7 linked regions of the Homo sapiens genome follow. The protein of the gene in region 5 purifies or fractionates together with the protein of the main gene of each other region. This does not show direct contact. Each region holds a gene or a part of one and is shown on either strand. Other genes may lie near its edges.

Region 1 (2,986 bases), on a different chromosome or scaffold from region 5:
TCCAAATTTTGTAAAATTCATTGGGTTATTTATTTCAGGTGAGAATGACCCACTTCGTTTTAAGCCTCATCCCAGCAATATGATGAGCAAGGTAAGGGGTTGTAGTATTCTCCTGATTTTTTTCTGAGGCAGCTATACCTAGATGAGCCTCTTGGTGATCCTGGATACCCTGGGATTCTCTTAGGACTTGATTTTCCAACTTGTGTGTTAGAATGCTGAGTTTGAGATTCCCTTTTTTCCCTTTTTATATTCCCACCACCCCAGGGTACTCCAGCTTTGGGTTTTCTTCTCACTTATCTCATGAATGCTTCCTAAATTTGCAGACATTGTTTCTTTTGTAGTTGAGCTCTGAGGATGAGGAGGAAGATGAAGCAGAAGATGACCAGTCTGAGGCTTCAGGGAAGAAATCTGTGAAGGGAGTGTCTAAGAAATATGTTCCTCCACGCTTGGTTCCAGTACATTATGGTATAAACTTTGGCTGCTGCCTCCTCAGCATGAACTGTTTCTCTTTTCTCTGTTCTTGGATAACCCTGCTTATTTTCATCATGTAGATGAAACAGAAGCTGAGCGGGAGAAGAAGCGTCTAGAACGAGCCAAGAGACGGGCATTGAGCAGCTCTGTCATTCGTGAACTTAAGGAGCAGTACTCAGATGCTCCAGAGGAAATCCGTGATGCTCGGCATCCCCATGTTACCCGCCAGAGTCAGGAGGACCAACACAGGTCTGAGCCCTTGCATTAGAAATTATTCCTGCACTCTAGAGTCCTGTCCTCATGCTTTATACTAATGTGACTAAGTTTGGTACCAAGAGAATTAATGTTACATAGAAAATGGAGTGAAAACTTTGGGATGATAGTTTCTAAGAATCAGGAGTTTGGAGTTCAGGATAGAAACTAGGAAAATTTTTACCCCAACTGTTTAGTTCAAAGCAAAAGCAGTACATTGCAATTCGACATGAGATTTGAGGGGGAAAAAAGCAGTACAAAGAGGAATGTATGCAGTTCCACATAGTACAACTTTAAGATTCTGTGTTTCACTGTCACAGCTCTCACTTTTGTGCAGAAGGCAATAAAGGTAGGTTTTTATAGTGACATTGTGAGTGCTAGATAAGTTCAGGGAAGGAAAGTAGAAAAGCAGTGTAATTGAATACAGACTCGTCAACTTTGCTCAGGTGCAGTCTTTGCAGTTGATGGATTTGCATGAAAGGACACGTTTAGGGAAACCTGCTTATAGAGCTGAAATAAAAAAATTTTGGTGTAATATTTTAAATAATATTGTGGATAGGCTATGGATTCATATCTAGCATGAGGGAAGTTCTAGCACAGAGCACATTTCATTGAGGAAGCTCAGTATTGAGCATTCAATATGTCCTTACTAAATACTATGTTGATCTGCTGTGAAACTTCTTGAGAACTCCCTGAACAAGAGATGAGTAGATACTTGGGCCCAGGTTGTGGGCTGGAGCTTTCCATCTCCATGGTCTGAGCCTGCTGGAAACTGTCTTTCTCTGGCAGGATTAACTATGAGGAGAGCATGATGGTGCGTTTGAGCGTCAGTAAGCGAGAGAAAGGACGGCGAAAACGAGCAAATGTCATGAGCTCACAACTTCATTCCCTTACACACTTCAGTGACATCAGTGCTTTGACAGGGGGAACTGTTCATCTTGATGAGGTGAGGTTGAGATATGGTTGTAGTAGGATGTGACTTTCATGCTTTCAGCAAAATGTATGTGGGGCTTATTACCATGAGGAACTTGGGAAGGGATGCTGGCTCTCAGAACCACAGTGCCATTCCATCACTTCTCCATCTGTCTCCAGGATCAGAATCCTATTAAGAAGCGGAAGAAGATACCTCAGAAAGGTCGGAAGAAAAAAGGTCAGTGAACTGCTGGGACTTAGGTGATCAGGTGCAAGGTGGGGAGTACAAATTGAGTCTCTTTGGATTTGCCATTCTGGGTCTCACCAAGCCCTGTAGTATCTCTTCCATACTGGGCAATAATCTCCTTAGGTGGGCTTTTATTTTTTGCTTTCCTGAGCTGGAAATCAGCATCATTCACAAAATGAATCTCTGGATTCTGCCTCTAAGGTCCCACAGCTCCTGTTCAGGCTTCCCTAAATAGAACTGGTAAAGTGTCACTTGAAGGAACCATTATCCCATTTCAATTTTATTCCTACTTCTCGTCTTTTGTCCTGGGAAGATATTCAGGGTACTGCCTAGGAGACCCCACCCCTGTGAGCCCTTCCCTCTAGATGTCCTGTTTTCCTGTCCCTTTAGCTTTTCCAACTGTCCTTTGCCTCATTCTTGGTTTCCCTTCCTTTCAGGTTTTCGGAGGCGGCGGTGATTATGGGTGTACATATTTGTATATTTTTTGTCATCCTGAGATACTTCTAATTTCATTGTATATAGGTGGTTTTCCCTGGAATTCATTAATTGTTTGCTTTGGACATGTGGAAAGAGCCTTACTAATAAAATTGATTTTGCTTATGAATTAAAGCCCCTTTTTGCACATGTATTGTACGACTGGAGTCGTTGGGTTTGGGATATTTTTGGTGAGTGGTTGGTGAAAAGGGAAATTTTTTTTGGAAGTGCAAAACATTTGTATTGTTTTCTTTGATAATATATTTTTCCCAAAAACTAAAAATTGGTTACGTCACAAAAAGTATTGAGAGACGAGGCTGGTATAATCAACTCTTTCAACCCATGTTGCCACAACTTCCTGTATGATTTGTTATAATACAATACAGATTGAGATATTAACACATGAATTTTAGGTTTTATTAGTGTTATCTGGGCTGGCCACCAGGTGGCATAAGTGGTTCAAGAAACTTGAGCTTGGCTGTAATCAAAAGCAAGATAGAACCTTTCCACATCAGCAAGATTATTCTTATCTCCACTTCTCTGAATGTTTTTCATTTCTTTCTGAAATAGCATGAACATAAGGCTGATCTTTGGTCAGTTACTGAGGGAGTTTGTAGAAAATAGTAGAGT
Region 2 (4,054 bases), on a different chromosome or scaffold from region 5:
GTCTACCACATCTAGTGTTCCTGAGTGTGGAAATTCTCTTGTTCACCTCCTGTCCTCACTCCCTTCCAATAAGCCATGTCTTGTTTGGAGGATGGGCATAGAGTTGAGAGTAGTGATCTGGATATGTGGGGTTGGAAAGGAAATTTGAGAGCCCAAAATTCTGCCTGTGAACTTTGAACTCAATTTTCCAATCTCCTTTGCTACAGCTAAGCTCTCCCACCCACATCCGGTGTTTTCCTGGAGGCTGTAGGTAAATGTGTCAAAAAATTCAATTCATTGAAAGCCAGTTCACTTAAATGTCCAACTTGCAATAACTTTTCTATTACCTCCTTTTTTTTTTTTTTTTGACGGAGTTTCACTCTTTCACCCAGGCTGTGGTGAAGTGGGGCGATCTTGGCTCACTATAACCTCCGCCCCCGGGGTTCAAGCGATTCTCCTGCCTCAGCCTCCCAAGTAGCTAGGATTATAGGTGTGCACCACCACGCCTGGCTAATTTTTGTATTTTTAGCAGAGACAGGGCATCACCATATTGGCCAGGCTGGTCTCGACCTCCTGACCTCAGGTGATCCACCCACCTCGACCTCCCAAATTGCTGGAATTACAGGCGTGAGCCACCGTGCCCGGCCTCTATTACCTACCTCCTTACGTTTAGTTATCATTTTGTCTCCATAAAAGCATTTTAAGGCAAATTCAATTTGATTCCGTTCCAGTTTCCTTGCTGTTGCAGCTAGAGTCTGAGGGGCCCAGAGGAAAAGGAAAACCCAGAGGGGCATAAGAAGAATATAGAATATTCATTTTTATTCCTGAGGAAGTACAACCACCATGGATGGAAATCAGAAGTCACTAACTAGCTGTTTACTTCTGGGCAAATCTTTTGGCTCGTTGGCCCGAAAAGTGCAAAACGAGGGTCACAATTTTCATTCACAGATTGTATGTGTTTACACACATACTCACGAACGCTTAGCAAAGTTGAACCTGGAGCAAATGTGTTAATAGCCCTTAAAGGGTCAGTGTATGACGTCACCATAGTAACAACAACAGTGCGCATGCGTTTTTTTTTAAAGAGCCGGCGTGCTCCCGGCTCGGCTCAGCTCGCCCCCTTCCGTGGAGTGCTGCGCCCCCGTTTCCCCAGGCTGCCCCTCCCAGCAGGAGCCAATTCGCCAATCACAGCCCTCCTTTTCCTGACGTCATTGGCGCGTGCCCCGGTTTCAAAAGCTCGGGGGCGGGCTTCTGAGTTCGCGCATGCGCCTCTGTGCGTTTGTCCCATGCTGGTTCCGTGAGTCTGGCCTTAGGTGTCTCGTGTCTGGGGTTGATCCGAGCTGTCGCCGCCGCCGCCGCAATGGGCAAAACGGCCAACTCTCCGGGTTCGGGAGCCCGACCCGACCCGGTGCGGAGCTTCAATCGCTGGAAGAAAAAACACAGCCATAGGCAGAACAAAAAGAAGCAGTTGAGGAAGCAACTGAAGAAACCCGAATGGCAGGTCGAGCGCGAGAGTATCAGCCGCCTCATGCAGAACTATGAAAAGGTGAGGCCGGCGCTGGGGAGGGGGCTCGGGCCGGCCAGCAGCGGGGCAGCGTCTCACTGCGGCGAGGAGTTGCAGAGTGGAGGCGGCGGATCTGTCACCGGGACCCGGCCGGGAATGAGAGGTCACGCCGGGTGCCACAGCTCAAACCTCTGCACCGTTCTGGCCACTCTTCTGCTTGCCACACTGTTCCTAAAAAAATAATAGAAATGCGGCCGTACCTAAGGGTAGGGAGACTAATGCTGTAATAGCTACAGTCATATTCATATTAATAATACTGATGACAATAGTGGTAATAATGACACCTACATTTTTAAGCACTCACCATGTGCTTACAGTAATTGTTTGACTTGATCTGAGGTATGGATATTAATAATCCTATTTAACAGATGAGATAATTGAGGTTCTAAGAGGAATGAAACTTGTCCGAATCTTTCACGCTTAGTAGGTGGTGTGGAATTGGAAGCTAGATCCATGTCTTTCTAATCCCAAAGCCTTTGCTTTTAACCATGAAGCCAGACTGCATCCCTCAACATCATCTATGCTCCTTCCTGTGGCCACCTCATTTTCTCCACAGGCTTCATGTCCCCATCCAAGAATTGGCCTAGAAAAGCTGGACCGCTGGTCTGTTTCTGTCACCTATCATCCCCACATTGTAGCTGGTGTTCCCAGATGAGTATACCTGTAATGATCACTTTGACCTCCTGACTTCTTCCCCCAACCTCCAGACTCCACAGGTCTGTCAATTCCTCTTTTCCCTTTCCCTAAATCCCATGTTTGTTGGTCTTCACCCACATCTTTCAGCTTCTCAGCCCCCTTCTAGTGCAGTACAATCAGGGATTTAACAGATGGAACATTCTTGTAACTAAGGTTGCCATTGTAACAAATTACCACAAACTTGGCGGCTTAAAACAACAGAGATCTTGAGGTCAGGAGTTCGAGACCAGCCTGACCAACATGGTGAAACCCCGCCTCTACTAAAAATACAAAAAAATTAGCTGGGCCTAGTGGTGGGTGCCTGTAATCCCAGCTACTCGGGAGGCTGAGGCAAGAGAATCGCTTGAACCCGGGAGGCAGAGGTTGCAGTGAGCCCAGATCGCACCATTGCACTCCAGACTGGGTGACATGAGTGAGACTCTGTCTTAAACAAACAAACAAAAAAGCCCAGCAACAACAGAGATTTACCTTGTCACAGTTCTGGAGGCCATACGTCTGAAATCAGTTTCACTGGGCCAAAATCAAGGTGTCAGCAGGGACTTGCTCCCTCCAGAGGTTCTAGGGGAGAATCTGTTTCCTGCCTCTTGTAGCTTCTGGTGGCTGCTGGCATTCCTTGGCCTGTGGCTGCATAACTCCAGTCTCTGCCTTCTCCTGTGTCAGTCTATCTCTGTTCCTCTGTTATAAGGGCGCTTACGATTGCGTTTAGGGCCTACACAGATAATCCAGGATAATCACCCCATCCCAAGATCTTTAATTTAATCACATCTGAAAAGTCACTTTTGCCATGTAAGGTAACATTCATCCCTTCCAGAAGTTAATACATGGACATGAGTTGGGATCATTTTCAGCACCACATCCTAGCTCCACCATCTCAGCAGACCGTAGAGCTAGAAACCTAGGAGCAGTCTTAGCTACTTCTCTCTTACCTACTCTTATATCCAGTCGGTCACACTGCTGATCTGTTCTGCTTACATTTTTCAAATGCTTCTTCATCCCTACTGCATTGTCTTCAGTCCCCATCATCTCTTGCCTGGATTACTATAGTAAATATTGCTTTCAACAGGGATCAGCAAACTTTCTCTGTAAATGATAGTGAATGTTTTCAGCTTTGTAGTCCTAAGGGTGGAACTACTCAATTGTTCCCTTGTAATACAAAAGCTGCCATAGAAATACTTAAATGAATGGGTGTTGTTTTTCAGTAAAACTTTAATTAGTGAAACAGGTGGCTGATGGGCTTTGTCCCCTAGGCCTTAAACCTTTTAATTTGTCCTCTGTACTTCTGCTAGAATGATTCTTTCCAAGATGAAGATCTAATCATTTTACTGCCGATTAGAACCCTTCCTTGGCTCACAGTTACTTTTAGAAAAATTGTCAAATACAGCGTGTCAACATGTTCTAGTCTGCTGCAGAGTAAGTTATTTGTGGTCAGGCTGACCTGGTTTAAATCTCACTCTTCAGGTATTGGCTAGCCAGGTTTCTTCATCCCTCTAAGTCTCAGTTTCTTCTTTCAAAAAACCGAAGTTATTAGCCACCCAGAGTGTTGTAAGGCCCAAATGAGATAATGTGTATACACCAAGTGGTACATGATAGGCATATATGAAGGAACAGCTTGCAGTTTTGTGAATTGTACATGCTTCTTGTGCTTCTCATCCTGGTACTTGATGTTTCCACTGTGTGCAGTGAGCATACCCATCTGCCCACTCTAAGGAAAGGTACTCTTCCTTCAAGATTTAGTGCAAACTTCTCTTCATCACCTCCCCTGACCGAGTTAGGGCTACTGTGCATCTGTAGCATTTTGTAGATACCTTTATGACA
Region 3 (4,055 bases), on a different chromosome or scaffold from region 5:
CTGCATTTTTCCCCCGTTCCTTTTTTGTATCAGTGGTACACCAATAATATGCCCTAAACATACAGCCTAGAAACTTAGATTTTCCCCACCCCTTCCTTGCCTTCCACTTGCTTAACTGGTTGTAAAATCATAATGATTCTTTTTCCAACATTTTCTTTTTCATTCTACCACCACCCTACCCATTATTGATTGCAAAAATCATTACAAAGACCTACTAATTGGTTTCCCAGACTCAGTCTCTTGTTTCTAATGATCTTTCACAGCTATGAGATTAATCTTCCAAGAGTACAACTCTAAATCCTTCATCTCCAAAAATGCCCCACTGCCTATGAAACGAAGACCAAATTCCTTGACCCAGCACTCAAATCCTTCATAATCCGGCCCCAATCACCTTACTAAACTTTTTCACCACTCTGCTAAGTACTTGCAAATCTCCATACATGCCCATGTTTTCCAGTTGGCTTTTTTTCATGCTGTTCCCTATGCCTAGAAAGTCCTCCCCTCCCATCATATCTGAATGTCTAAATCCTTCTAAAGTCAGTGTTCAAGGTTCAGCTCACATGTCTTCCCAACCTCCCCAGCCAAAAATAAAATGAAATAAATCTTCTCTAATCCATCCTAATTAGAAGTAATCTCTTCTCCCTCAGTGCACTCTGAATGTAACTTTCTTAGGTCCCTGTTCAACTTGTAATAAATTTATAATTATCTCTTTAATAGATTATAGACTCTTGGAGAGGACAGACTGTTAACCTCCAGTGCCTTACATTTACAACAAATAGTAACTATTTATGGAAAGAGCAAATGGAATTTTGTAGAGTAAGTCTAACCCCTTTTCCACATGACAGCTCTTCAAATCATTAAATCTTTCAATTATTATCAATAATAATCACTACATTAATTACTAATGAGTAATAATTATAGCTTACATTAATCACTAATAATATAGTAATACAGTAATAGCTACATTAATACTAACAATAATTAGCCACATTACCCCTCTTATAACAATTGCTATGATTACATTCACTCTCTCTGAGGATCTTAATAGATTTCAGTTAACTAAGACCTCTGGGCCTCTTTTATCACCCACCCTAATCCTGTAAAGTTGGTACTTTAGGAATCTAAGAGCAGGACTTTACTTCTACTCCTATTAAAGTTCATCCTGTTACAGCCAGATGTGGTGGCTCACACCTGTAATCCCAGCACTTTGGGAGGCCAAGGCAGGTAGATCACTTGAGGTCAGGAGTTCGAGACCAGCCTGGCCAACATGCTGAAACCCCATCTCTACTAAAAATACAAAATTAGCCGGACATGGTGATGCGCCTGTAATCCATTACTTGGGAGGCTGAGGCGGGAGAGTTGCTTGAACCTGGAAGGCAGAGGTTGCAGTGAGCCAAGACCGCACCACTGCACTCCAGCCTGGGCGACAGAGCGAAACTCTATCTCAAAAAAAACTCCATCTTAAAAAAAAGATCTCAAAAAGAAAAAAGTTCATCCCATTAGTTTCAGTTCCAGTAGCCATCAATCTGCTTTAACCACTGTTTTACAAATCTGATAAACATGGCTCACAGCAAGAATTCTCAACTCCTCAAGACACACATATGTGTTCCAGGCATCCTTCCCTAAGTGTGCGCCCACTGATGCATAAAGTCTACCAAGATTGTCGTTAATATACTTTAACTTTAACCTAGGGCTTCCTTAAAGTCAGCATCTGTGGCAGAGAACAAACCCTTTCAGCTATTAAGACAGAAAGTAAGCTCAGTAAAATTGGAGAATGACATTTTCAAATACCATTACCCAAACTTTGTACCTTTAGTGACCATATCCTTATTTCACTTGAAGTATGCAAGCAACAGCTTTCAAAAGGGGTATCTAATTGAGATAACTTTATATTAAATCTGTACGAAGTCATACAACCTACCTTGTAAGGCCAAAGGAATAGCTTCAATCTGGATCTTGGTGGGTTTTGTCCATCCCAACTGGTCACAAGCTTCACACAACACATCTGTCACACCCTTGGAATTCAGAAAAATATACCTTAGCCAAGAACAGCACACCCCTACCTCCCTCCTACTTAACTGACTGTCAGACCCATCATGTACAACCATTGTATTTGATTTAAAAGGTATTTACTGTGCATCTCAGAGCCTACTCTTTAACTATACCATGAGACAGTAGCTCAAGACTTAACGAACACTTTCTGCTCACCAAGGCCAAGGCCAGGTGCTTTACATGTATCATCTCATTTAATCGTCACAACAATTCTGCGAGGTAAGTACTTATTACTATCCCCAATTTACAGATGTGGAAAGAGAAACACAGAGAGGTAACAACTTGTCCTCAGTAAGAGACTGTGTCAAAATTCAAATCTGGTTGGTTCATCTGACTCCAAAGCTCCAGTTATAAAGAGACCAATTCCATTCCCCATATGTACAACCTCCTGGATGCACATACAAACGTTGCCACACTAAAGTGGCGAATAGGGCAAATAGGGGGTCTCAGGGCCCAGCAGCCCTCCCACCACCCAAACTCAGAGCACGTCCGAAACCCAGCCCTCTGAAATTCTGGGGAAAACCCAAGCTAGGCCCCAAGATGCTTTTGTACACTATCAGAGCGGGATCTAAGGTACCTGGGGTCTCCCTGAGCCTAGCACCAGAGTACATAAAAGAAGCCAGCGTCATCCATTCTCACCAGGTCTTTAAATGTTTTAGTTTCCTCCTCTTCCACAATCGGCTGGGACGCTTCGGTCGGAGAATCGTGTTCCTCGGGTGCCGCCATCTTGTGTGAGGTCTCCGGAAGTGGGTCTGCGGCGCGCGGGATGCTGGGAAATGTAGTTTTAGTTCTCCCCGGACGACGTGCTCTGCGCGCCCCCTGCGGGCTTGCCGGGGATTGCACCCGTCCGCTAGGCAGGTGGGGCCCAGTGAATATGGGCGCGTAGGCTTGCGGAATAGATCCGAGTGCAGAAGGGGCTGATCACCAGGGACTCCAGTTGACCTTTAGGTCCCTTTTAAAGAGCCTTCCCTACGTGTGTCGCCAGTTATGTTCCCCGCTTTTCTAACCATAGAGTTTGGAACGGATTGATATTACAATACTATTTTTTTATTATGTCATTACTTTATTCAATAATGTTGAGAACCTACCATTTGCTAAGGCTATGCTAGATGGCTGGTGAATAGGACAGCGACCCCTGCCCTCGTGAAGAAAAAGAAGACAGATCATAAATAAGCTATCACAGAGCATTTCAAATTGTGAAAAGTAGCTGGGTGTGCTCACGCCTGTAACCCCAGCACTGTGGGAGGACGAGGCGGGCGGATCACTTGAGCCCAGGAGTTCGAGACCAGCCTGGGCAACGTGGCGAAACCCTGTGTCTGCAAAATGCAAAAATCAGTCAGGCATGCATGGTGGCATGCGCCTGTAATCCCAGCTATTCAGGGGGCTGAGGTTGAGGGATCAGTTGACCCCGGAAGTTGAGGCTGCAGTGAGTGGAGATGGTGCTACTGTACTCCAGCCTGGGCAACAGAGTGAAACCCTGTTCACATAAAAATTACAGAGTAACCTGGGGAGGGTGGGTTGTGGGGATAACTGTGAGATTGGGAAGGCCTCTCTGAGACAGTGATATTTGAGTTAAGACCTCACTGTTGAGCAGGAGAAAACGCTTTAAGATCCCAGGAGATAATCATTCCAGAGTGAGAGAATTCCAAGTACCAAGACTGTGAAGCTACTAAGGCTATTCTGGAAAGCAGCAAATTCAGAGCTGTATGTTGCATGCCCCATGGCCAGCGAGTGCCCTCCTGTGGCCTGTCACTTGGGTCTCACACTGCGCAGGGTGCTCGTTGCAGTTTTATTCCTGAGGATGGGAAGTTGGGGGCAATCTGGTGTCCGTCACTGGGAAAATGCATAGTTAAAATGTGAACATGGTGTCTACAAACATGCCCTTAACAATATGATTAGATCTGAAAAACCTAGTGCTTAGTGAGAAAAGCATAAAATATATCAAGTATATTAAAATATAGGCCCACAGATATCACATTCTGCTAAAACACATCCAACAGAAG
Region 4 (3,500 bases), on a different chromosome or scaffold from region 5:
CTGAGGGTCAGGATAGGGGAGGTCCCCCAAATGAGGATGGGGAAGGGGGAATCTACTGGGGAAATAGGAAAGGAGGGGTGGGGTATTCATTGTGATTCTTTTTTCTCACCTGTCTCAGCTCTTCCATGCCTTCAATAGCCCAGTTCTGTCTCCCTGCTGCACTTCAAAAACACATGCACATCCTCAAGTCTAAACCCTGCAACATACCTCTAATGCACACTGTACCCAACATCCATCACATGTCAAATGTCACATGCATTTGACAGTCCCCTCACACCTCTAATGCACACCCAATTATACTATCGGCATACAGCATCCCCCTCAACATCCTGTGTGTACACCCAACTCACATGCACACAAGACAACCCTGCACAAAGCACATCCCATAATACCTATGCAGTGCTCACACAAATTGTGACGCCCCGCCAGCATCTATACCCAACATGTTTGCTTACTAAGAACAGAACTGCAGCTCATGAGCTTATGAATGCATCACACACACACACACACACACACACACACACACACACACACACACACTTGTGTCTTCCAGCTCAATATGGTCTTTTTATTTTCATTCCACACATCCTAATTCCATGTGATTGGCAAGACCTACCTCAAACACTGGGAACTTTCAAATACACCCAGTAATTCTCTCATCTTGGAATTCCCACGACACTCCATTTATCCAATTCACACCTAACTTTTGGCCTTATTACTTTTAGCCTCCCTGCATAGTATCTACATACTGGCTTTAGTTCCTTCAGTAGGAACACAATATTCCTGAAGGTCAGAAGCCGTGCCAGTTTCAATTCTATATCCCTCCAAGGGCCTAACACTGTTCCTGGCACACACATCTATTAAATAGTCGCATGAATGCATGAATGAACAGACAAACAAGAACACTGAGATCCTTCCAAGAAATTCCAAATTTGTGTGAACTTCGGAGATCTGATTAATTCTTTCCTGGCAAACATATACAGCTCTGAGGACTTATCTACCCAGGGCATTTAGGCCAATTTATAAGAAAGCTGCTAGATAAGTTGAAACCAAAGCAATGAAGAAAAATGAGCCCTGAGCAGCCCGGAAAATCAACTTAAAACAAGGTCCTTGCGCACTGTGTTGTGTGTGTGTGTGTGTGTCTGTGTGTGTGTGTGTGTGTGTCTGTGTGTGTGTGTGTGTGTGTGTCTGTGTGTGTGTGTGTGTGTGTCGAGGTTATGGATTATTTCAGACACACCTGTTGAAATGAAATGTGAGATAAAGACTTGGTGGTAAAGACCTCCGATCTGGGGATTCTTCGTACATAGCTAAACTCAATATATAGACCTGCCTTTTCACCTAGGGATCACGTTTATTTTTCTTTCTTTACAGCTTGGAAGGAAATCCATTACTTCAAATTGAAGTGGAGCCAACGTCGGAGGTGAGAATCAGAGAGCAGTGAAGCGACATTTTCCAGGGACTGCCCAGAACTTGGCAAAGCCGACTGACGTTTTGGATGACGCAGAGGGCTTGGGGTCAGGTGGGGGCTGTGGTGGCCCTGACTGATGGATATTCTAACTCTGGGACAATTAGCAAGCAGTGGTCCCTCCCAGCACTGAGTCTAATGGGCCATTATATGGCATGCATCATGGAAAAGCCAGTTGTGTGGAAATTGTCAAGAGATTTGCATTCTTAGTGGAAAGATCAGCTCAGGGCCGGGTGAATACCAAGGGGGATGTGCCCCGCTGCCTTCAAAAGAATATGTGGGAAGAGGTGGGGGCCTCAGGGATGCTGGGCTTAGAAGTGTTGAGAATGCTCTGGGGCTTCTTCCCACCTGCCTAAGTGGCTGCAGAAATACATGAAATGCCCTGGCTGGAAACCATGGAGTCCTGGCCCCTCAGCTCTGCAACTGCTCTGGGTCTCATACTGAAAGGAATTGAGTCAGGGCTTCCAAGGAAAATCGTGTTCTTTTCTGGGACTATTTTGGTTGTTGAAAAATGATCCCGGGAGAAATCAATGTCCCCTGTATTGTTTCTCCTGAATGTGCCATCAGGGGCAGCTTGCCCAGGTATTTTGGGTCAGGAAGAGCTGTACCCAGTCAAGAAGCCACCTTCTCAGGCTGTTTCATCAGGTCCCAGGGTCTCTGGGAATCCCCGCTGGCCCTGGCCACCTGCTGCTCCCACAATTCTGCAGGAGAATCCAAGAGGCAATTCGCCCCCAAGCACCCCTAGATATCATGCTGATAAGGTGGGTCCCTACACCTTGAGCATTTAACTCTAGTGGTAGTTACGCCGAAGTACGCCTGAGTCGTGTGTGTGCATGATAAAAATGCAGATTCCTGGTCCTGGCCTGCGGATATTTTGATCCAATAGTGCTGGGTGGGGCCCAGGAATCTGCATTTTCTCGGGCCTCCCAGTCGGTGTTTAATACAGATGGTCAGGTCTGTACAAAGAACTTAACAGGCCTTCATCTAAAACCTCACACCGGCCCTGGGGCAGATTTTATTACCCCCACTTTACAATGAGGAAAGGCAGCCTCAGGGAAGTAAAGCAACTGGCTCAAGGTCATACAGAGGCCAGATTTCAGCTCTCTTTGTCTGATTGTTAAGCCCATTCTGTTAACCCCTCACTCTCATGTCTCCTACCCTCCCAGCTGCTGTAGGAGCCTCAGACAGCTAGCTTGTAGCTCTGACCTCTCCCAGTTTTTGAATCATCAATTCCAAATTCCCTGGGGGAAGCAAAAGATACTCCATGTTGGCAGTTGTCATGTGTTACATGCAGATGCACGATGTACCCATTGTTTTAGCCTGTCTAGCCTGTCAACTTTATCACATGCACGTAAACAGCCAAACCAAAAGACTATGGAAGAATAGGAAGGCCATCGGATATTCAAGTCCAGAGACCTGGATCTTAGTCCCTCTTCTGCCTGGCTGCATGACCTGGAGTGAGTCACTTCCCAGGGCAACATATGGGACTTTCGGTGCTAAAACCAGGAAGATTCCAGCAAACTAGAATGGGCGATCCCTATAACACTTCTCTCTGAGCCTCAGTATCCCCCCATTTAGCACAAGAGAGGTGGATGATCATGATCTCCCTTTCAGCACCTTCACTGTAGTATGATTCTAGACCAGATTCTAGAGCTGGGGAAACAGAGGGACGTATGTCTGCACAAGCTCCAAATGCATGTAGAGATGTGCCCAGACCTACGCATGTGCACGGGACCCAGCAGGACCATGAGGGAGGCTGGGGCAGTGGCAGACACAATTCTGACCTCTCTCCCACTCCGGCCACAGAATGAAGAGGTCCATGATGAGGCCGAAGAGTCAGAGGATGACTTCGAGGAGATGAACCTGTCCCTCCTCTCGGCCCGGAGCTTCCCACGCAAGGCCAGCCAGACCAGCATCTTCCTTCAGGAGTGGGACATCCCCTTTGAGCAGCTGGAGATCGGCGAGCTCATTGGAAAGGGCCGCTTTGGGCAAGTGTACCACGGCCGCTGGCATGGCGAGGTGGCCATCCGGCTGA
Region 5 (3,500 bases):
CTAGCCCTTACCTCTACTCTGAACTGGACTTGTGTATCCAACTGTTTCTTGACATCCCCGCTTGGATGTCTGATAGGCATCTCAAACTTAACTTGTCCAAAGTAGAACACCAGCTTTCCCCCCACATTTCCCCCTCCTGCAACCTAGTGGTCTTCCCTCCCTCAGCCAGTGGCAACTCCATCCCGCAAGCTGTTGATGCCAAAAACACTGGAGGCTTTTTGTTGTTGTTTCTTTGCTCTCATACAATCCACTAGAAAATGCTGTTGCTTCTATCTTCAGTATAGATCCAGAATCCAGTCACCTCCATTACTGTCACTGATTCAAGACACTGTCACCCCTGACTATGCAATTGCAGTTATTGCAGTTGACTTCTAAGCAGTTTCTCAGTTTCCACCCTCTACCCCTTTATTCCACAGTCTGTTATCAGTAAGCTGCCAGGGTGATCCTCTACTCAGAACTGTCCAGTGGCTCCTGCTCTCTTGGGGGTGAAAAGCAGAGTCCTTTGAGTGACTTTTAAGGTCCTACTTGATGTTGTGCCTTCCTGCCCTCCTCTCTGAGCTCAGCGGTCACTGTTCTCCACCTTACACTGGCCTCACAAGTCTCACTGCTCGAGACCAGGCACACTCCTGCCGTAGGACCTTGGCACAGGTCCTGCCTGCCTGCTTTTTTCCCAGATGTTCTCCAGGCTTTGCCTCCTCATGCCTTTCAGGTCGTTGCTCAAGAGGACCTTAACCTTATTCAAAATTATAATTCTCCACCAACACTTCGTCTCCTTTTCTTGCTTTATTTTTTCCATGGCATACATAACCATCTGACATTCTAATTGTTTTACTTCCTTATTTGTTGGTGTTCCCTCACTTGAAAGAAAGCTTCATGAAAGGAGGGGTTTTTAGATTTTTAAATTTTTTTTTTTTTTGAAACAGGTTTACTCTGTTGCCCAGGCTGGAGTGCAGTGGCACAATCATGGCTCACCTCAGCCTTGACTTCTCTGGGCTCAATGATTCTTGCACCTCAGCCTACTGAGTAGCTGGGACTACAGGTGTGTACCAACATGCCCAGCTGCTTTTTTTTTTTTGTAGAGACAGTGATCCCACTTTATTGCCAGGCTGGTCTCGAACTCCTGGGCTCAAGTGATCCCCTTGCCTCAGTGCTGGGATTATAGATATGAACCACTGCACTTGGCCAAGAGGGCTTTTTTTTCCCTCCTGTTTTATTTACTACTGCTATACCTAATTACTGGCATTTAGTAGTACTAAATAAATATTTGTTTAATGTATTGATGAATAAAGTTAATTTTCATTTTCAGCTCCATCACACTTTTGACTTGGGGCTACGATTTTTATTCACACAATTTGACCTACAGTCTCCCATTCTGGAGTTAATCAGCTTTTGTTGTATTTTTAATGCCGTTAAATTTATTTTCGTTAGTTTTCTAGTGGTTAAGCCTGTTTTTTTCTTTTTTTTTGGCGGGGGGGGGGGGGGGGGGGACGGAGTCTCTCTCAGTCACCAGGCCGGAGTGTAGTGGGAAGATCTCAGCTCCCTGCAACCTCCGCCTCCCGGGTTCAAGTGATTCCCCTTCCTCAGCCTCCCGAGTAGCTGGGATTACAGGTGCCCACCACCACACCTAGCTAATTTTTTGTATTTTGGTAGAGACGGGGTTTCACCATGTTGGCCAGGCTGGTCTCAATCGGCCTCCCAAAATGCTGGGATTATAGGCGTGAGCCACCATGCCTGGCCAAGTATCAGCTATTTGGTCAGTTATTTATCTGGTTTTATTCCTTGTAAAAAATATATTTCTATAAGAAACATTCTCCTATAAATGTTTTACTTTTTAAATTCTCACTTAAATAGATTAAATTGTTCCATATATTTAGTTATAACCCATAATATTTGAGGCTTTCTGCTTTCCTTTAGATTGCTTAGATGGGTTAGTTTTTCTCTATGTAAAAGATTGTAGTTCAAAAAATTTCTTATCTGGCCGGGCCTGGTGGCCCATGTCAGTAGACCTAGCATTTTGGAAGGCAAAGGTGAGAGGATTGTTTGAGCCCAGGAGTTTGAGCCTTCGGTGAGCTACAGTCACATCGCATCATTGTACTATAGACTGGGCAAGCATGAGACCCTGTCTCTAAAAAAGTAAAAATAAAAGAAATTATCTAATGTATGTAAGTATACACAAGAAAAAAAATCCAGGAGATATTTAATACGTTACGAGTAGAGTTAGGATTAGAGAATATTTTTTGCTTCCTATGTTATATATTCCTATGAAGTTTGAATTTTTAAATATAAGCATGTATTGATTTTGCAAGCCGAAAAACAATTTAGCTAAATTTGTTTTAAAATAAACTCTCTTCATTTTCTTTAAGTGGCTTTCTGATAGGAAGAAGAGAGCGCTACAGAAGAAAGATGTAGGTGAGTATTGTTTTTTCCCACTTCAGCTGCGTTAGTGATCCATGTTCTAATGCTTTTACTCATTTGCTGTTATATATAAGTGAGGATTTATAAGAATGCGGTAACATGTAGTGGAAAATGAATGCTCTTGTCCCTTTTCTTTTTTTTCCTTTGACATGGGGTCTCACTGTGTTGCCCAGACTGGTCTCTAACTCCTGGGCTTGAGCAGACCTCCCACCTTGGCCTCCCAAAGTTTTGGGATTACAGGCATGAGCCACTGTACGCAGCTCTTCTCCTTTTTTTTTTTTTTTGAGATGGAGTTTCACTCTTATTGCCCAGGCTGGAGTGCAATGGTGTGACCTCGGCTCACTGCAACCTCCACCTCCTGGATTCAAGCAGTTCTCCTGCCTCAGCCTCCTGAGTAGCTGGGATTACAAGCCACCACGCCCGGCTAATTTTTTTTGTATTTTTAGTAGAGATGGGGTTTCTCCATGTTGGTCAGGCTGGTCTCGAACTTGCGACCTCAGGTGATCCACCTGCCTTGGCCTCCCAAAGTGCTGGGATTACAGGTGTGAGCCACCGCGTCCGGCCGCCTTTCTCCTTCTTAAGAAACTTTTTGTTGTGGTTGGTATGTTCCTGGTGGGTATGGGATTTGATTTTACCTTATTAACTAATAAGTTAGCCTGTTACCGTTTCATGGATAACAATAGTAGACGCAAGACTCCTGGGCTAGAAATGCAGATGTTATTACTCACAGCACAGTAGATAGCATGAACATCAGCATATTTGTGCCAGTTCCCCTCTTGGGTCTCCTGGGGACACTTAGCACAGTCCAGGTGGATGCTTGGCACACAGTGGATTTGCGTTGTGGCCGAGCAACACAGCTTGGGAAGTCCACTGCTTTTCTGGCAAGCAGTAAGCAAACCTGTGTTTTGTCCAGAAGGGACAGGTTACCTGTCTATCAAGGTTCTCAGCAGTGTAAACAACCCTGAGAAATGGCTCAGGTAAGAGTGGCTGGGGTCTTGCAATCTCGCCATACCCAGTAAGCATGCAGGTCCAAGGAGGACTGTCTCTCCTAACAGGTCCCTAATTGCTTTGCTCTCTTGTGTATC
Region 6 (3,500 bases), on a different chromosome or scaffold from region 5:
TTACTACAAGAAGAAAAATAGTTGAAAGCTGTATTTTTTTTTTTTTGGAGGAAAACAATATCAGCTACACATTAAAAAGTGAAATAATAATAGGTGATATTTATTAAGTTCTTACTCTTCCACACACTATTCTGATGATTAAGCTAATGTCACAAGGTTAGTAATATTGTCCAGACAAATTCTAGGTCTCAAACTAACTACTATGCTATGCCACCTCATTAAGAAATTAAATGTCCTAAGTGGAAAAAAAAATACGTGTGTAAAAATCATGTTATATTACAGGCTACAGTAAAAAAAATTTAGGACTGCAGTATCTTTATAGAAACATCATGAAAGGGAATAACTTATATTTTAATAAAAATATTATTTGCATGTTATATGACTGTTATATGACAACAGTAATGCTGCTCTCAATTTCAGAAGCAAGTCATGAATGATAAATAACACATCCATGGAGCAAACAGAGGTATCTGAAATCATTATAATTATCATTAAAATATTAAATCATGTATTAAATTCTGTAAATGGGCAAAGACAGTATTTCAGTCACTATTGCTGAACCTAGCACAAAGTAGGCAGTCAATGGTATTTGTTAAATTGTAATGAAACACTGATTTAAAACATCAAACCTTTAATAATCTTATTTTCCCTTTTGAATTTAAAAGGACTTTGGAAAAAAACAATTTGGATGGTCAAATATTTTTGTTTGCTTTTTAAAATGCTATACAAAGAAGTGTGAGCTGCCACCTTTTTCTACTGATAAATGTTTACATAATGGATAGAAGTATTCAAAATCATGTATCCAGCCCTCTAGCTACATCAATATTAGATATTTGCCATATCTATGGGAGATTATGGAAGTACTTTTAACCCTAAAAATCATTTCTAAATGCTAGCACTAAATTATTGATTTGCCTTTCCATCTTTTACCTTCTTCATGTATAGAAAATCTTCATGTATGGAAAATCAGAAGCTCCCTAGTAATAATCTCATTATTATTATTTTCTGATGGATCTCATAGACCTTTATTAGAGCCTTCTCTATAGCAATTCTTTACAGTTATTAGGTCATTAGTACATACTTTTCAGTGAGCATTTATGAAGCTGTCTAACATGTGTCAGGATCACATGCCACCTTTCACATATGTGATGCCACCAGCAACAACTCCAAAAGCAAACATATAGTTATATCTCACTACCTGTGGGGGATTGGTTCCAGGACTTCCCCAACTTCTCTGCTGATACCAAAATTCACAGATGCTCAAGTCCCTTACATAAAATGGTGTGGTATTTGCATATAACTTTCACACATTTATGCATATACTTTAAATAATCTCTAGCTTACTTATAAGACCTAATATAATGTAAATACTATGTAAATAGCTGTTATACTGTACTACTTTAAAATGTGATGTTTTATTGTTGTATTATTATTTATTTATTTTTCCTTGAATATTTTTGATCCCAGGTTAATTGACTCCTCTGATACAGGGGACCAACTGTTATTTATAGACAACCCTCCAAATAAATATACAAGGGCAGGGAGAAATGAGACTTAAGTATACATTAGGAAGTAGTAGATGAGGATAAGGTGACAGCTATATTATTTTCTAACTAAAATACTTACTTGGATTTTACATTCCACAACTGCAGGCTTCCTTGTTCACTGCCCAGAAGTATTTTATTCAAGTAGGTACTTGGATGCAAAATTGCAGAAATTTTAAATACTGATTTATCAAAAGTCAACTGCAGGTATTCTTCTACAAAAGTGAAAGTTATAAATATTTTTTATAAAATAGTTTAAAATGTTTTATGTAACCATATATTTATCACTTAAAGTAAGTCTATCACATCAAAGATTTATATGTTAAAATAAACCACAGACTTAGATACTAATCTATAAACATTCCTTGAGAAATAAAATAAATGAGAGGCAACTTGTAAATGTAATTTAATTTAGACTGTCAAAAATTTTCTGTAACTTCTAATAAAAATACTATTAAAAGTTTCATTCACTTTTGAATTACTTTACAGAAAAGGATAATAAAGTTAAAAAAAAAAGATCCTAAGGATTAGCATTCATGTTTCTGTAATTTGATCAACAGACAGGAGTGAATATTCCAAGTGAAGTGCTTATACTTAGCTCTTTCAGGGAACGAAGAGCCAATTATCTGGAAAGTTTGATGGGCCACTCAAAAAATGCCAAAAATAAAAGACACACCTCAGTGAAATAAGAGTACTTCTCACACATTTCCACAAAATAATCTCTAATAAAGGAGAAAAAAAAAACGTATAACCCTGTGGAGTGGGGGGTGGCATCACCAGTGGTCACTTGCTCCAAGATAAAAAAATTCTCTGAAATCTTTGGTTACATTCAAAATTTCTATGTTTGAATTCTGCTTTTCACTTTACAGTTCCTCCATGATTAAAACAATGTTCCACTCTATTTTCCAGTAAATTTGTGTATCAAAGAAGGTACATTTCACTTAATCTTTAGGTTCACATACTATCTGGCACACTACTGTACAATCCCAGGGTATGGGTACCACAGTTTAGGATGTACAGGTATAGGTGAAAATTATATAAACTTTACTTTGAATGCTATTTTAAGAGATCCTTGCCTTTATTCGTCAGTCACTACAAATGGCTCCCTGAATATACTGGTTCAAGAGAGTCTGCTGGAATGTAAGAACCAGATCCTGTAACCTAATAAAAGCCCTTTTAACTTCTATCTGCACAGGGAATACTTTTGGAATTCTGTTCCCTCCCTCTACTTGAGCAAAAACAAAACAAGAAAAGGGTTACTAATCTGAAACAAGAACCTGGAATAATTCCCAGAAATGCAATCTTCAGGATATTTACTGAAAAAAAAAAAAAAAAAAAAACAAAAAAAAAAACAAAAAAAAACCAAGAGGCAATATAAGCTAAAAATGTAACCAGATTAAAGAACTTAAAAGATTCAATTCATGATGAACCCAGTATTTTATTGAGGAAAGGTGTAGATATCCTAGGGATAAATTCTTCATGTTTAAAGATACATAATCCCATAAACATAGCCACTGTCTAAGCTATCACAGTTGAAAGAAACTGACTCATATCCCTAGGAAATGGATGTATATTTTCCTTCAGATTACAAGATCAAGTTTACTATTACAGTCTCCTTTACTAAAAGGTGAAAATACAAACCAAGAATTACTCAGGTATGAAAATACATCAATATTCACTCCACAGGGAAAACAATACAACAAATCATTAAAGTTGGAGAACTGCAATGGAAAATACATTAGTTGAGGTAAGCACATTAAACAGTTTATAAGTAGTTAACTTGCTAAAGTTGTTTATCTCTTTCTTACTTAGAACTTTTTTTCTTACACGTTAAAGATTTTTGATTTTTTTAATTTCTTACTATTTACAGGCAAAATCTCTGGCATAGATGTTTACATAGATTTTAAATTTTAATTAAACACATACTACCCTAAGATAAAGCAAATAAATGAGTTA
Region 7 (4,211 bases), on a different chromosome or scaffold from region 5:
TAATGCCATTATGTCCTGAAACAGCAGAGTGCTTAAACATGCTGATTCTTTGGACAAGATAAAAAGTAATTCAGGAAGCATTTACCAGGCCATACCTGATCTTTTCCTCGATCCCCAACTACAACAAAGAGAGATCTTTGCCGCTCAGCTACTCCATTCTCAATGAGAATCCGGATTCGGTTATCCACCTTTTTCCGATGCATGGTGAAAAATTATTACTAAAAGAGAAAGAAATACAACTGGCCATGCGCACTAGATTGTCTAAGGAACATTAGCTGGCTGCCTTTTGTGGGGCCTGGGACTGTGCTAGGCATATCTATAAGTATTGTCTTACTTAACCCTCTACGAGCTCCACAGGAAGACATCAGCCTCTAGTTTTAAACTCAGGAAACCTTAGGCTTGGGAGGTGAGAAAACCTTCCCTCAGCCTGGAAAGCCTGTAATTCACCTCTATTAAATATTTTTTAAAAGCCAGAAACTTGTATATTCAAAAAAGTAGAAGAATGACTAAAATACATAAGGAGATATCCAAATATCCAAAGCATTGTTTGTTTTTGAGACGGAGTCTCACTCTGTCGCCAGGCTGGAGTGCAATGGCATGATCTCGGCTCACTGCAACCTCTGCTTCCTGGGTTCAAGCAATCCTCCTGCCTCAACCTCCCAGGTAGCTGGGACTACAGGCGCATATGTTGGCCAGGATGGTCTCGATCTCTTGACCTCGCAATCTGCCCACCTCAGCCTCCCAAAGGGCTGGGATTACAGGTGTGAGCCACCATGCTGGGCCAAGCATTTTTAACAACTAAGGATATGGATATAGATGCTTATGACAAGATCATGACAGAATAAAGTATGATAACATTTCTTATGCATACACATAACAGAGGGAAAAATAAAAAAGACTGGAAGGAAATACCAAAGTATAAAGTAGCTACTTCTGGATGGTGGGACTTTTATTTTGTTCTTTTGTTTTTGTGGAATCTTAAAAAATTCACGTGTTACTAATAAAGTCAGGGAAATCAATAACCATCAATGAATAATTCCATGATGTAATGTGTCCAACTGTTTCCTCATTTTAGGGAAAACGATATTGAAGCCTTTGTACAGACAGACCTCAAAAGTTCTCGCCGGGAGTGGTGGTTCATGCCTGTAAGCCCAGCACTTTGGGAGGCCGAGGCGGGTGGATCACCTGAGGTCAGGAATTCAAGAGTATGGCGAAACCCCGTCTCTACTAAAAATACAAAACTTAGCCGGGAGTGGTAGTGGAGCTGCAGGAGAGGCTGAGGCAAGAGAATCACTTGAATCCGGTAGGCGGAAGTTGCAGTGAGCCGAGATGGTGTGCCATTGCACTCCAGCCTAGGCGACAGAGTGAGACTCCGTCTCAAAAAAAAAAAAAAAAAAGTTCTGTGATTACCTACAGTAAAATACTGCATCATCCCAATAAATACATCAAAAAAACCATCAGAAATATCACTGTAAAAGTAACATGCTACTTAGATGTAAAAGTGACATGCTACTTAGAAACTCTGGTACCTACTGCATTATAAACATAAAGCTCATTTACTGAAACTTACCATACCTTAACTGTCCCTTCTAACCTTCCAATCCAAACAGATTTTAGCATATGTCTTACTATAAAACACTAAGTCACTGTCAAGGACCCCAATTTATACGTAAAGGAGAAAGTATAAAGAATTCAAATATCCCGAGGCAGAAAAACGACAGACAGAATTCACACTCAAGTCTTCCTGACTCCAAAGCCTGAGCTCTTCCCAGTTCGCCAATCTTCCCAACTTGTAAACCTTGTGTTGCCGGCCACATAAAGATCCCGCAAAAATCAATCAACAACTAATTAATGGGGGCTGCCTTTTGCTCTAGCTACTGTGGGAGCCCCAGAAGTAGTACCACAAGGCCCTTGACTTCAAGCTTGCATTCTTCTTGAAGAAGGTATTTAAGAGAATGAGATGAGGAACAAGAACACAGGTAAAATTAGATGTAAAAAAAAAAAAAATAGCTATACTGAGGGACCGGTCAGATGAAGGAAGGGCTGAGATTACTATGGGCTGAAGCTGTCATGGAAGGCCTGGATGGGGAAGGCCTTGAAGGAGATGATTATTTTTCGCTCACTCATTCGTCTATCTACACATAACATCTATGTGGCAGGCACCATTTTAGGTGCACTGGCAAACAAAACCAAGTCCTGAATGTGACTGCTGAATAAAGAGTATAAAGGAATGTGCACAGTGAAGGATTTAAGAACGTGGAAGGATCTGGAATCAGATTACCCTAAGTATAATGCCCAGACCTGCAGCCAGGCACTGCGGGCAAGCTCCACGGAAAACAACTGTTGTCACCCACCCATTCACCCCGACTCCCCAGTTACAGGCACTACTTAGAGGTGGTTATCGAGCCACGCAAATCCCCGAGGACGCTCGAGAAGCACGCGCCGAGAGCGGCTGCGTATTGGAGAGGTGATTCTGTTATCTTGGAGCGCCCCAAAAGAGGGGTGGAGGACAAACGGCGTAGGCCAGGTATCCGTCCGGATGCAGAGCCTTCATCCTGAGGCCGGTCCCCTCTCGACCCAGGAAGAACACAGACACCGATCTTGGCATCCATACCCGGCCCTCCCGCGTTGGGTACCTGCGCCCCGAGCCCGGGGGATCCCAGCCAGTGGAGAAGGGGAAGCACGTGGGAGCACGGAACAACTCCGAAAGAGAAGGCACAGCTGACTGCCCCTAGCGTATGCCTGGTGTCCGGGTCACGTAGTAAGCCTGGCTCCGCGGCACGCGTCCCTCTCAGGAACTGGTAGACAGCACGTGCGCAAGCGCATTAAAGTCGCAGAGATGGCGAGCGAGAAGGGACCTTCCTCAAGGCTGTCGCTGAGTAATGACGTAAGCCACCAGAAGCGGAGCTGAGGCCTAGATGTCCACTGCGGTTGCGCATTTTAGTCCCACTGCTCGCGGTAGCTGGGTGTTGGCTGCGGTTTGCCTCTTCACTCTTCATATCCCAGCTAAAGTACCTCGGCTAAGAAGGGCAAAATAGATGTCCGCACCCCAGGGCCTGCCCACGTAGGTCCAGGGTTTTCAGCGTCAGCCTGGTTACGCGAAACGCGACGGATCCAACGATTTGTGTTCAATTTAACCGATCCCCGTTAAGTTGAGGAAACTCGGCCAACAGACCTATTTTATTGGTTTCGCTTGGCCCTCCACCCCCACAGTACTGATCTTACAGATGGGAATCCTGTAATCTACCCATGACTGCGGCCGCTGTACTTTGCAGGCTCCCATTAGGCCTGTATATGGTCGTCAAATGAAATTACTCCCCCTGGGCTTCCAGTGAACTCCAAGAACATGACTACAGGGACAACCTATACATAGTGTTGCATTCTTGACTTTGGGGCAGATCGCTGAACTTCAAAAAACATTATCAACTGCTTGATGTTTCCTCCTGGATACCGCAAATGTCTGAATCCAAACCCCTTCCCCAGATACACTTTTAATGTCATCAGCAGCACTACCCATTTAATCCAACATCCATCATGAAATTTTTTAGTTCATTCAGCAAAATGTGAATATGCCCACGCACTATTCTGCTCACAAGGGATAGTGTCCAAAATGTTCCTGCCCCTCGTGGTTAATTCTAGGTTAAGTTTTAAATGCTATTAAGCAGAAGTATCCAGTGAGTAAAGTGACTAAGGATACTATTTTAGAAACGAACACTGAAGGCCTCTGACGGGGTGACACTGGATGGAACAAGGACCTGAAATTTAGAAAGAATGAGCCCTGAGAATATGAGTGAAAAACTTCCCCGTGCCAAAGATGTACATACAAAAGCTCCAAGATGGGGGAGTCCTGGCAAAGCAGTCAGTGTGGCCAAAGCAGTGGGCAAGTGAAGGACCAGATTTAGAATTTAATTCTAGTCATGATGAGAAACCACTGGAGTTTGTGGGGGACAGGGAAATGAGAAAATCTGCTTTGCCCTCTTAAAAGGCTTCCTGTTATGCAAAAACTAAATCACAGGAAGGCAAAAGTAGAAAAAGGAGAACAATTATAAGCTATTGTAGTCACCTGTGCTAGGATGGTAGTTGTGGTAGTAGTTAGAAGTATAAGATAACTCTGGATATTCAAGTTAGAACCACGTGGACTCACTTAAGGATTAGATGCAGGTTATAAAAGTACATTGAAGATGGCACCCAAAACATTTGCTCTGAGCAAC

What was found.
Region 1: the proteins of NOL10 (region 5) and NGDN purify together in Homo sapiens (co-immunoprecipitation; 3 studies listed by BioGRID and IntAct, with this or other methods). This does not show direct contact.
Region 2: the proteins of NOL10 (region 5) and DDX10 purify together in Homo sapiens (co-immunoprecipitation; 2 studies listed by BioGRID and IntAct, with this or other methods). This does not show direct contact.
Region 3: the proteins of NOL10 (region 5) and DDX47 purify together in Homo sapiens (co-immunoprecipitation; 3 studies listed by BioGRID and IntAct, with this or other methods). This does not show direct contact.
Region 4: the proteins of NOL10 (region 5) and KSR2 purify together in Homo sapiens (co-immunoprecipitation; one large-scale study listed by IntAct). This does not show direct contact.
Region 6: the proteins of NOL10 (region 5) and WDR36 fractionate together in Homo sapiens (co-fractionation; one large-scale study listed by BioGRID). This does not show direct contact.
Region 7: the proteins of NOL10 (region 5) and NAT10 purify together in Homo sapiens (co-immunoprecipitation; 3 studies listed by BioGRID and IntAct, with this or other methods). This does not show direct contact.

The regions. Positions count from the first base shown.
Region 1 is NC_000014.9:23,475,688-23,478,673, forward strand, and holds the end of NGDN (neuroguidin), read left to right. Parts: intron 1-38; coding exon 39-91; intron 92-341; coding exon 342-465; intron 466-551; coding exon 552-720; intron 721-1,512; coding exon 1,513-1,669; intron 1,670-1,815; coding exon 1,816-1,873; coding exon of another isoform or gene 1,874-1,881; exon of another isoform or gene 1,882-2,319; coding exon 2,320-2,339; 3' UTR 2,340-2,486; downstream 2,487-2,986. UniProt on the Homo sapiens protein: Part of the small subunit (SSU) processome, first precursor of the small eukaryotic ribosomal subunit.
Region 2 is NC_000011.10:108,663,815-108,667,868, forward strand, and holds the start of DDX10 (probable ATP-dependent RNA helicase DDX10), read left to right. Parts: upstream 1-1,254; 5' UTR 1,255-1,339; coding exon 1,340-1,525; intron 1,526-4,054. UniProt on the Homo sapiens protein: Putative ATP-dependent RNA helicase that plays various role in innate immunity or inflammation. Plays a role in the enhancement of AIM2-induced inflammasome activation by interacting with AIM2 and stabilizing its protein level.
Region 3 is NC_000012.12:12,812,091-12,816,145, reverse strand, and holds the start of DDX47 (probable ATP-dependent RNA helicase DDX47), read right to left. Parts: upstream 2,801-4,055; 5' UTR 2,779-2,800; coding exon 2,692-2,778; intron 2,016-2,691; coding exon 1,922-2,015; intron 1-1,921. UniProt on the Homo sapiens protein: Required for efficient ribosome biogenesis. May have a role in mRNA splicing. Involved in apoptosis.
Region 4 is NC_000012.12:117,524,991-117,528,490, reverse strand, and holds part of KSR2 (kinase suppressor of Ras 2), read left to right. Parts: intron 1-1,371; coding exon 1,372-1,420; intron 1,421-2,784; coding exon of another isoform or gene 2,785-2,793; exon of another isoform or gene 2,794-2,917; intron 2,918-3,271; coding exon 3,272-3,500. UniProt on the Homo sapiens protein: Location-regulated scaffold connecting MEK to RAF. Has very low protein kinase activity and can phosphorylate MAP2K1 at several Ser and Thr residues with very low efficiency (in vitro).
Region 5 is NC_000002.12:10,683,476-10,686,975, reverse strand, and holds part of NOL10 (nucleolar protein 10), read left to right. Parts: intron 1-2,363; coding exon 2,364-2,409; intron 2,410-3,500.
Region 6 is NC_000005.10:111,098,848-111,102,347, reverse strand, and holds part of WDR36 (WD repeat-containing protein 36), read right to left. Parts: intron 1,760-3,500; coding exon 1,627-1,759; intron 4-1,626; coding exon 1-3. UniProt on the Homo sapiens protein: Part of the small subunit (SSU) processome, first precursor of the small eukaryotic ribosomal subunit.
Region 7 is NC_000011.10:34,104,218-34,108,428, reverse strand, and holds the start of NAT10 (RNA cytidine acetyltransferase), read right to left. Parts: upstream 2,801-4,211; 5' UTR 2,637-2,800; intron 219-2,636; 5' UTR 204-218; coding exon 96-203; intron 1-95. UniProt on the Homo sapiens protein: RNA cytidine acetyltransferase that catalyzes the formation of N(4)-acetylcytidine (ac4C) modification on mRNAs, 18S rRNA and tRNAs.